Regions from separate parts of the Homo sapiens genome. Here region 2 is reported to be linked to region 1. The links are microRNA targets in miRTarBase. Many come from high-throughput screens and were not tested one by one. Region 1 holds a microRNA gene; the other region holds the end of a gene's coding sequence.
The links. Region 1 holds the annotated microRNA hsa-miR-502-3p (AAUGCACCUGGGCAAGGAUUCA, at 2,231-2,252, opposite strand). A microRNA usually pairs through its seed, bases 2 to 8, with sites in the 3' UTR of a target mRNA and lowers its output. Matches are read on the target gene's strand: a 7mer-m8 pairs with bases 2 to 8, a 7mer-A1 pairs with bases 2 to 7 and ends in A, and an 8mer does both.

Region 1 (5,175 bases):
ATGAAAAGATATGAGGAGCCTTAAATGCATAGTGCTAAGTAAAATAAGCCATTCTGAAAAGGCTGCATAATGTATGATTCTAACTATATGACATTCTGGAAAAGGCTAAACTATGGAGACAGAAAAATGATCAGCGGTTGCCAGGGGTTTAGGGTGGGGGAGGGGGGATAAATAGGCAGAACTCAGAGGAATTTTAGGGCAGTGAAACTATTCTGTATGATACTATAATGGTCATGCATGTCATTATACACTTGTCAAAACCCATAGAGTATATAACACAAAGAGGGAACTCTAATGTAAACTATGGTTTACATTAATAATTATATTTAAACTATTATTTAATAATAGTTATAATACATTATAATTATACTATTATTTAATAATAATGTCTCAACATTAGCCCATCAATTTTAACAAGTGTACAACACTCATGCAAGATGTTAATAGCGGAAACTGGGGTGTCTCGAGAATATATAACAACTCTATACTTTCCATTCAATCTTTTTGTAAACCTAAAACTGCTCAAAAAAGTCTATGAATTTTTAAAATATGAAAAGAAACTAAAAGAGCCATTTACACATAAGGAAATTTTGATGCTAAAAATCATCCTGTGTAACACAGAAATCCCCCTAGTAATGACAGAATAGAAATTTTAAGTCATTTAAACCAATGGTTCTCAAACTTCAGTGTGCATCAGAATCACCTGGAGGGCTGTTAAAACACAGATTGCTGGGCCCCACCCCTGACTTTCTGATTACCTAGGTCTGAGGTGAGGCCTGAGAGTTTATTTCTAACAAGTTCCTGGAGGATGCTGATGCTGCTAGTCTTGGGCATCAAGAGAGGTATAAAGTCTGATAAAATAAGACTAAGGCTGAGCAGTAACCAAAATGAGATTTTAGAGTATACAAAAGATAAGGAGCACATATTAAATAACCTGAATCTTTACTGCAGGTTAGATTGGGAGAATCTGGGAGAGAAGAAGGACCAAGGATCAGAATCTATAAGTCCCAAATGTTTAAGAACTTGAGGACTGAAATGGAGTGTGTGTCTCTTTCTGTCTCTGTCACCACTATTTATAATACTGTATTGCTACGCTGACCTGAACACTATAAATTTGCAATGGGCAATGAGCAAAAATGATAAGATGGGGAGGAATGAATAGATCAGCTTAGCTAAGAAGAGAGTAACAACTGAAGAATACTGCTGAGGTCACAGTAGAAAGCACTCAGGCTCAGGCGCTAAGGATGGGAGGAGGGGAGTGAATCAGATCATGGGCACCTGTACTCCCTAGGTGAGAGAGAGAGAGAGATGGAGAGACGGACAGAGAGAGCGATAGACTGAAACAGAGACATGTATAGTCCATCTCTATTTGACTAAAGTAAGGTAATATAAAGATATAGGCTGTTCTCATTTCCATATTGTGTGGGGTGCATACAAGATCAGCAATAAGAAGGGTCCCTTGCTCTTCACCCCCTCTAATTCAAGAAGAGTCTGTAATAGACATCTAAAGGCAGCTCACAGTTCTACTCAGGATGTCCTGGAAGATAAAGGGCAGCTTATAAGCTCAAACTCCTATACATTCTGTAAGTGTAAATCTTCATGAATGTGTGCATCTCCCTGTCCTCAGAGGGGACAGAGTGGGGGGAATAGGAAGACTCTCTCTTTGGCCCCCATCATTTGTGCCCGTCTGAATTTTTCTTCTAAAGCTGCCCATCAGAGAGCACATCCAGTGATTTTGACTCTCGTTTGTCACTGCATCCTTAACACTAAAAAGAGTATCTGTCACACTCTAGAAACTCAAGATATAGGAAGGCAAGAAAAGAGACATATATGCACTCAGTCCATATATATACATATAGGTAGGCAAGGCTCCATCTCATTGAATCCTTGGCTTAATACTTGAGACAGCACTCACATCTAGGTTGGAAGGAAGTGAGGGAGCAAATCAGAAGGCTCTGGTTCCCGCCCACCACCCTGTGTGTGGACAGCAGGTGGGGAACACAGAGAAAGCTCACTGTCTCACTCTGGATACCTGCATACATGGACATTATTTAATAAGGACATTTATTCTAATACACAGACAAGCCCACCAGAGCACCTGAAGTCCCTAACTATTCTGTTCTGTGCTTCCCCAACACACACCCATCACTCAAAAACTATGACAGGGGAGGGTGGGAGGGGTGATGTCTAGGCTCTCTGTCCTTCTTGGTACAGTTGAGCTCCCCCTCTCTGAATCCTTGCCCAGGTGCATTGCATTGAGCCAGCACTAGCACCCAGATAGCAAGGATTAGAGAGGGGGAGCAGGGCAGAAGGCTTGGGCACCTGCCGTGCTCGAAGCAGAGAAGGTTCTCTGTTACACAGCTCTGTGTGAGAACAGGAATGAGAGTCTTGCATTGTGTATATGTTGGGAGAGGGTGTCAATAAGAAGTCCCATGTTGTGGCCCACACTAACTCAGCACGTGCAGGAATATTAGGTGACAAAAAGTCAAGTCTCCTACACATATTCTTTGAGGCAAGAACCAAGTCCATCTTGTGTGATACCATATGCCCACTGCCCTGGCAGCACAGCGTTAGCATGTACTAAGTGCTCAATACTTGTGAAAGGGAGGTAGAGGGGAAGGAGAGGGAGGAGGAAGTGTGACTCACAGGCACTTTGTCTGTCTATGGGCAGAAAAAGGCCCCTCTGAGAGTCCTGGAATAGGTGCTGCACTGAGACAGCATGCACATTTAGGTGGCAAGGATACAAGGGGAAGCAGAGCAGCAGGCTCAGGATGTGCACACCACATATATTTGCACAGGTACCCATGTCTGTGGGAGGGAATAAAGAAAAGCCTGATTTCTGGCACCCTGAGCCCATGTATTCACAGGAAGTTGGATGACATGAGGATGCTTATTCTCCATGAGCCTGCTAGACAGTAAGGTCGGCATCTCTGACAGGTTAGTTTACTGTGGCATTCCCAAACAGCAGGAATTCAGTAAATTTGTTAAAGGGATGAATAAATGAATGGACCAAAAACATGCACACACAAATGACTGACTGAAAGAATGAACAAAGGAAAGAGAAGGGATGGACAGGCTCTGTCCTACACATAGGCAAGGCTCACAAGCTGGTATCCTTGCACAAGCCCATTGCACTGCTAAGACAGCACTTGTGCCTAGGCTGCAAGGCTAGGAGAGGGCAAGCAAAAATCAAAGTCCAGGCACCTGCACACCAGGCATGCATCTGAGTGTGTGTGGCAAGGAAACTTGCAGGCAAGTTTAGATAATAAGGCTCCTTCCTTTCAGCTTTGTACAGAAATGTTTCTACACTTACACATGTGTGTGTGCACATGCATGCACAATGTGAGCATGTGTATTCATAAGAGAATGAGAAGGCTCAATTCCTGACACACCTGTGTCTGTTGCCTAGGCCTGGGGAAGTCTAGGCACCTAATACCTCCACTAGATAGGAAGTCCCGGAGAGAGACACTGTCCATTATTTAGCAGGGTACTCCCAGCACAGCTCATGGCACATCAAAAGTGCGCAATAAACACGGGCTACTTGGATTGTTCAGCAGAAGATTCACGATGACAAGGCTCACCCTCCTGTAATCCATGCACACAGGAGGTGTTTTGAGAATTCACAACTCCGATATGCAATGGGTATGGGAGAAGGAGCAGTTCATTCTTCTGCACATGGGAGGGGGGTGGGGGAGGAGAGAGAAAGAAAGACAGAAAGAGAGAAAGAGAGAGAGAGGAGAGAGATTGATTGATTGATTGAGAGAGAGACAGATTGAGATTAAAGTGTCAGGTGCACGCCTGGAGAAGCAGTGCCAAGTCTATTCCCTAATAAAGTACTTGTTGTGTGTTCACTTAGCCTCATGTGCTCACTGAATGTGTGGTTATGGAGGAGGTGGAGACAGTAATGAAATGATGGCTTCCCTGCCACAGTCTGCATGGACTCGGCATTGGGAACGTACATGAGCAATGCAGGAGCTCATTCTCTTCCACCCTTCACCTGACTAGCTTATCACTGCCCCTAGCTAGCACTTATACTAAATCAGTGATTCTCAAACTTAAGTGAGCATCAGAATCAGTTGAGAGCCTTGGTAAAGTACAGATTTCCATGGTTTATGGTGTAGTAGGTCAGGGATGAGCCCAAGAATTGGCATTTTGAACAAGCTCCTAGGTGATACAGATGCTGCTGGCCCAGGGACCACACTGAGAACCACTGCTCTATACATAACTTAAAGAAATGAAATAATGGGACATAGAGGGGTGATGCAAAGACTCTACACTTTTAAACATGGATGAGATTCCCTCTCTGAATTTTTGTACAAGGCAATGGACTGGAATAGCATTTGTACCCAACTACGAAGAATGAAAGAGAGGGACAACCTGAATAGAAGGCTCGAGCATCTTCAAATCCATTGTGTTTGTGTGTATGTACAAAAGAAACAGCACTCTCTGGCTCACAGGTGATTTTCCTATGACCATACAAAGGTGAAGTGTCTTTTCTTCATATGCATGTGTGAGATGACTGACAAGTAGGGCCACTTTCCTTCAAGCTCTGGTGGCATAAGCAGCAAGTAGAAAGCCTATTGCCTTGCACACCAGACATGAGTGAGAAGATGCTGCTAATGACACTCATTATCCTATGCACACTGTGGCTGCAGCTCTGTGTAAGGGGAGACACACCTTTTGTAGTTCTCTAGCTGAGCACTGTTGGGGGGTTGGAGAGGGGATGATGGGAAGACTCACTCTCTGCTACATACGTATGCATGAACAATGTGGGCAACGGAAGTTCCTTCTCTTAAACATGCTCACTAGGCATGTGAGTATGAGTTCTGTGTCTTTCTTGACCACCCTGTCTCTCCATGTCTGGTGCATGACAGGAGCGCCACCCCTGCTTGTTAAAGGTGGGAATGAATGAAGGATGGGGATTATAAACAGGTGTTCTTCGCTCTATGCAGAAAAGGCTCAGCCGTGGAATGCTTGCCTGGGTGCACCGCATTGACACAGCACTTGCATCCAGGTACCAGGATTCAAGAGGGGGAACAGGACTGAAGGCCCAAGCAGCCATACAGAGTATGTGTGTGTGCACGTGTGCGTGTGTGCACATGTGCTCACATGGGTTTACAGGGAAGGCTCACCGCATATAGTGTGTTCATCTGTGACTGTACAGAAAAGTAATGA
Region 2 (5,000 bases), not on the chromosome of region 1:
TGGAAGGGTCCTAGGGTTCCACAGAGCACCCGCTACTGCTCGGAAGGCAGAGCACAGGGAAGACAAAACCAGAAAGCACATCAGATTCTGGAGAGGTGAAGGCGAGTGAGAATGAGGTCTGGAAAAGGTGTAGCAGGGGCAGGGTGGAGAATGAGGATCCCAGGGAAGGGTCAAGTTGTGCTCCCATTCCCAGAGAGCATCACACCTTCATGGGGAGAGTCCTCAGAGGTGGAGGACTGCCCTGGGCCTAGATTTGTTAAATGGCCCTCTCTCCTGCAGAGGAGCTTTCTGAGTACACTGCTTCACCTTCCTGATACATGGGGTTCCAGCCCTGCAGGGCGGGCTCCTTTCTCATCCTAAGGACGGGGACTTCCTGATGTTGCAACCACCCAGTGGGTTCAGCTTGCCTGCTGCCCAGACAGAGCCAATTTATCAAGACAGGAGAATTGCAATCGAGAAAGAGTAATTTACGCAGAGCCGCCGTGCAGGATACTGGACTAGAGTTTCATTATTACCAAATCAGTCTACCCGAGCATTCAGGGATCAGAGTGTTTAAGGACAACTTGGTGAGTTGGGGGGAAGCGAATGAGCCAGGAGTGCTGATTGGTCAGGGTTGGGGGGAAGCCAAAGAGCTGGACATACTGATTGGTCAGAGATGAAATCACAGGGAGTCAGAATTGTCTTCTTGCACTGAGTCAGTTCCTAGGTGGGGGCCACAAGATCAGACGAGCCAGTTTATTGAGCTGGGTGGTGCCAGCTGATCCATCAAGTGCAAGGTCTGCAAAATATCCCAAGTACTGACTTCAGGAGCAGTTGAGAGAGGGTCAGAATCGTGTAGCCTTCAGCTGCATGACTCCTAAACCATAATTTCTAATCTTGTGGCTAATTTGTCCTACAAAAGGAGTCTAGTCCTCAGGCAAGAAGGAGGTTTTGGGAAAGGGCTATTATCATCTTTGTTTTGAACTATAAACTAAGTTCCTCCCAAAGTTAGTTCAGCCTATGCCTAGGAATGAACAAGCACAGCTTGGAGGTTAGAAGCAAGATGGAGTTGGTTAAGTCAGATCTCTTTCATTGTCTCAGTCATAATTTTACAGTGGCGGTTTCAATGTCAGTTACTCCAGCCAAAGCAAGGCTTCACAGCTTTGGGGAAAATAAGCATCCTTATCCAGACCCCAAGAGAGGGTTCTTGGACCTCTCACAAGAAAGCATTTGGGGCGAGTTCATAAAGTAAAAGCCACTTTATTAAAGAAGTAAAGAAACAAAAGAATGACTACTCCATAGGCAGAGAAGCTCTGAGGACTGCTAACTGGCTATTTTTATACTTATTTCTTGATTACATACTAAACAAGGGGTGGATCTTTCATGAGTTTTCCAAGAAAGGGGCAGGGAACTGAGGGTCCCTCCCTTTTTTAGACCATACATAGTAAGTTCCGGAAGTTGCCATGGTGTTTGCAAACTGTCGTGGGAGTGTCCTTCAACATGCTAACGCATTATAATTAGCATATAGTGAGCAGTGAGGACGACCAGAAGTCACTTTTGTCACTGTCTTGGTTTTGGTGGGATTTGGCCGTCTTCTTTACCGCATCCTGACCTGTATTTTGTGATACCCGTCCTGCCAACCTCCTATGACTAAGAATGCCTAACCTCCTGGGACTGCAGCACAGCAGGCCTCAGCCTCATTTCACCCAGCCCCTATTCAAGATGGAGTCTGGCTTGAATGCCTCTGTCACCCCCAGCCTGGCCACAGAAACCACAGTTACAGTTAAGAATCTAGGGTCTAGTGGGCACAGGCCCCCTGCCAGCTGCTGCCCCTTCTTCCAGCCCTCCCGACAGCAGAGGCCTGAGACCTCTGAAGAGCAGGAAGGGAGGCAGCGGTCCCCAGCAGAGGGACAGGGACAGCCCAGCCCTGGGGACACTCTTGGCCTTGGCCTAGGCTCCAACCTGGCTCAGCCCCCTGCTCTGGAGGGGAGCCAGACACCCTGAGGCAGCACTGGTGGCCTGAAGGAGCCAAGTCTTTCAGGGGATGGGAGAAGCAGGCACCTGTGGCTCCCAGGTGCCCACCCAGTACCAGCTGGTCCTACAGAGCCCTTCCGATGCCTGCCTCAGTTACACCTCCCAGAGGCCCCGCAGGTGCACACACACACACACGTATGCACATGCGATGCACGTGTCATGCAAATACATTTATGTTATGTTAGGTTAATTACACAAGCCTCCATGACCTCCCTGTGCTGTGTTAATTACGCCAGCCTCCTGACATACTGACTGCATTTTTATAAGTACATTTTCTTATCCCAACAAACCCCCCCAAAGCTTGACAGTATTTATAAAGTATAGCAAAGCTACATTAAATATTTAGAAAAAGTTACTTTTTAGCTCATCTCTCAATTAAGAAAATTTAAAAAAACAATATTTTTAAAAATCTCTGGCTTGTCAGGCTAAAAACATTTCTATATTAAATAGCTTTATTTTTGCCTTCCAGAATAATGCCATCATGCATTCCAGGGAGAACCCCATTTCTAGAACTCAAGGGTCAAGATTTGGGAGAAATTCCCAGTTCCTCCCTTTACAGCTGTGTGAGGTGCGTGTTTTCTTCATTTAAATCTCCTGTTGGAGATTGAAATGCCCAGAATGGGGGGTAAGCGGCGCTGAGAGGAGGTCTGACGCCAGGTCTCATCCTGACAGTGGCCCGGGCTGTGTGGCTGAGCTCTTTGCTGCCCTAGAAGACTGCCTGGCAGTGAATGGCTGAAGCGTGAGGCCACAGTGCATGTAAAGTCAGCACCTGTCAGTGATTTGTCATCCTGTCTAAAAGCTAGGGACCCAGGTCTACGAGAAAAGAGATGTCTGGGTGTAATTTCCAGGGGCAGCACCCCGTCATTTAGTTATAAACCCTCAGGTTTGACAGCTTGCTAGTTTCTGTCCTGAGGACGGGTCAGCCCCCTGGGTGGGTGGTGTGGCCCCCTCCTGCGGGCCCAGGAAGGAAGGAAGTGCCACGCCCAGGGCCATCCCTGCTTCCCGCTGTCCTGGCTCATCCCAGGCCTCGGACCCAGAGTGAGGAGGGAAGGTGAAGATGGCTGTGTCCTGATCTTCATGGCGCACCCCCTCCAGGAACTCAGAGGAAACAGTGCACTCTCCCCCGAGAAGTCCCAGACACACAGCCCTCTCCATGACTTGTGTAGGGCTTAGACCAGCTAAGACCCAGGACGGACCCTCGTAGGGGAAGGAGGGGGCCCGCGTGAAAAAGCTCAGGGAGGGATCATGGCCTCCTTGGACCCTTCTGGATCCTCTCTGAGTAGAGGGTATAGGACAAGGGCAGGGCTGTTATGAGAGTGATCGGGGACCCAAACAGCCGTACAAGGGTCAGCACTGGCCGATGCTGGGGTGCGGAGCCTCTAAAAGCCTGGTCAGGCTGAGCTGGCTGGGGACCGGGGACAGGGGACCGGTCCTCAGGAGGACCCGGACGTGGTGAGAGGAGAGGGCCAGGTGCCATCCTCAGCAGACACAAGCTCCTGCACTAATACACTTTTCTCTCTTGCAGGCAGCTTGCCTGAGAGAAGCGGGTGGAAGGGGCTTTGGCTTTCTGATTCAATCTGCACTGGGCTAGGCTGCAGGGCAGCTTTGGGATGGACACTCATGGCCAAGAGGAGTGTTCTTCCCTCCTCAGGAGTGCTCGGGTCCCTCACACCTGCCTCATGTAACCACTCTCTCCGTTTTGATGAGGGAGTCACAGGCACACTGCCACTCTTGCTTCGGCTTGTGAGGAAGTAGCGAGCAGATCCCACGAATACCCAGGACAGCAGGCGGCAGGAAGCCTGGGTGACGGGGGAGAGTGAGCAGAGCTGCGGCTACGAGGCTGGGGGCCTTGGACAGGCAACGGCATCTCTGAGTGCAAGAGAAACTTCCTCTCCAATGTGCCTTCTGACTTCCCTGCCATCCAGCTCACAGAGAAGCCCAGATGGTCGAGCCCCAGGAAGGCGTTTAGCCTGCCCAGGGACCTGAGCAGGGCTGCACTCTGAGCCCATCGCAGCTTCAAAGTCTTGTATTTGTCCTTAAGGAAGGTTCCTGCTGGCATGGTCAGGAACACATTCTTACTCATTGTCAAGGAAAGACAGAGGTTTGAGGTGAGTTAATGTCACAAATCTGAAAGGGTTGATTGCGGAAACAGAGCTGGATTTGAACCTCTTCCGCACAGCAAGACAAACCCAATTTAGAATCACGACATGTGTTTCTTTTACAAACCGTAGGGCCAAGCTCCCAACCCTACCCCCCAACCAACTATGTGTGGAGGCGTCCTGACCCTGAGGCCGGCCTGGGCTAGGCAGGTCGCACCTTCATCTCTGACACCTTGTAGCTATAATTGTATCCTTTCCCCGACTTCCAGTTGATGCCATTTGCAAAGCTGCCATGAGTCCCCCTGAGGTAGCGACCATTCAGGTTTGACACATGGCAGTTTTTGTACCACCAAGCTCCCTGAAACATCACAGCACAATTTCCGGTGTTAAGATCATTGTCCTGGTCTTTGGTGGAGAAGGACTGGTTGTTGTGGAACGTCAGGGAATCTCCTGTGCAGGAGGAAATGTGAGCATCGTTACAGGCAGTAACATCATTACAGACAGTATAAGTCTTTATACCTGAGGCCTGGCCTGGTGTGTCCTCCATGTATGGTTAGGCAGGTTGTGCACTGCACAATCCAAGAAGTGCAATCCATGACTCCAGTGAATACTGCCCTGCTGTTGGCAGTGGTCTTGGCAAATTGTCTTTAGGTCTAGCCCTGCCACCTAATGTGTACTATGTTTATTTCACAGAAGAACAGGAGGCAGGGGTCAGGATCATCATTCTCTACTCTGGATTCCATCATGGCAGACCCCTTCCAGCCATGCCCCGCAGAGATATCAGCTGCTGTCACCGTGCATAGGTCCCTGCTCTGCAGAGACTTCCTTCCTACCAGATGCCCTTGCTGGGATTTCTGCAGTCATACACTGATGTGTCCCATGACCCCC

Region 2: the mRNA of FCN2 is a reported target of hsa-miR-502-3p. The part of its 3' UTR that is shown has no 7-base or 8-base seed match.

Annotation. Positions count from the first base shown.
Region 1 is chrX:50,011,726-50,016,900 of GRCh38, reverse strand. MIR502 (microRNA 502) reads right to left here and starts at 2,303; the gene lies at 2,218-2,303. The region is part of intron 3 of CLCN5 (chloride voltage-gated channel 5); the gene reads right to left. MIR660 (microRNA 660) reads right to left here and starts at 3,660; the gene lies at 3,564-3,660.
Region 2 is chr9:134,886,730-134,891,729 of GRCh38, reverse strand. FCN2 (ficolin 2) reads right to left here. Exons shown (of 8, transcript NM_004108.3): 8 at 4,207-4,562. The coding sequence ends at 4,315. Among named protein-coding and RNA genes, the nearest start is that of FCN2, 8.4 kb to the right of the region's middle. RefSeq lists an enhancer at 1,425-1,925.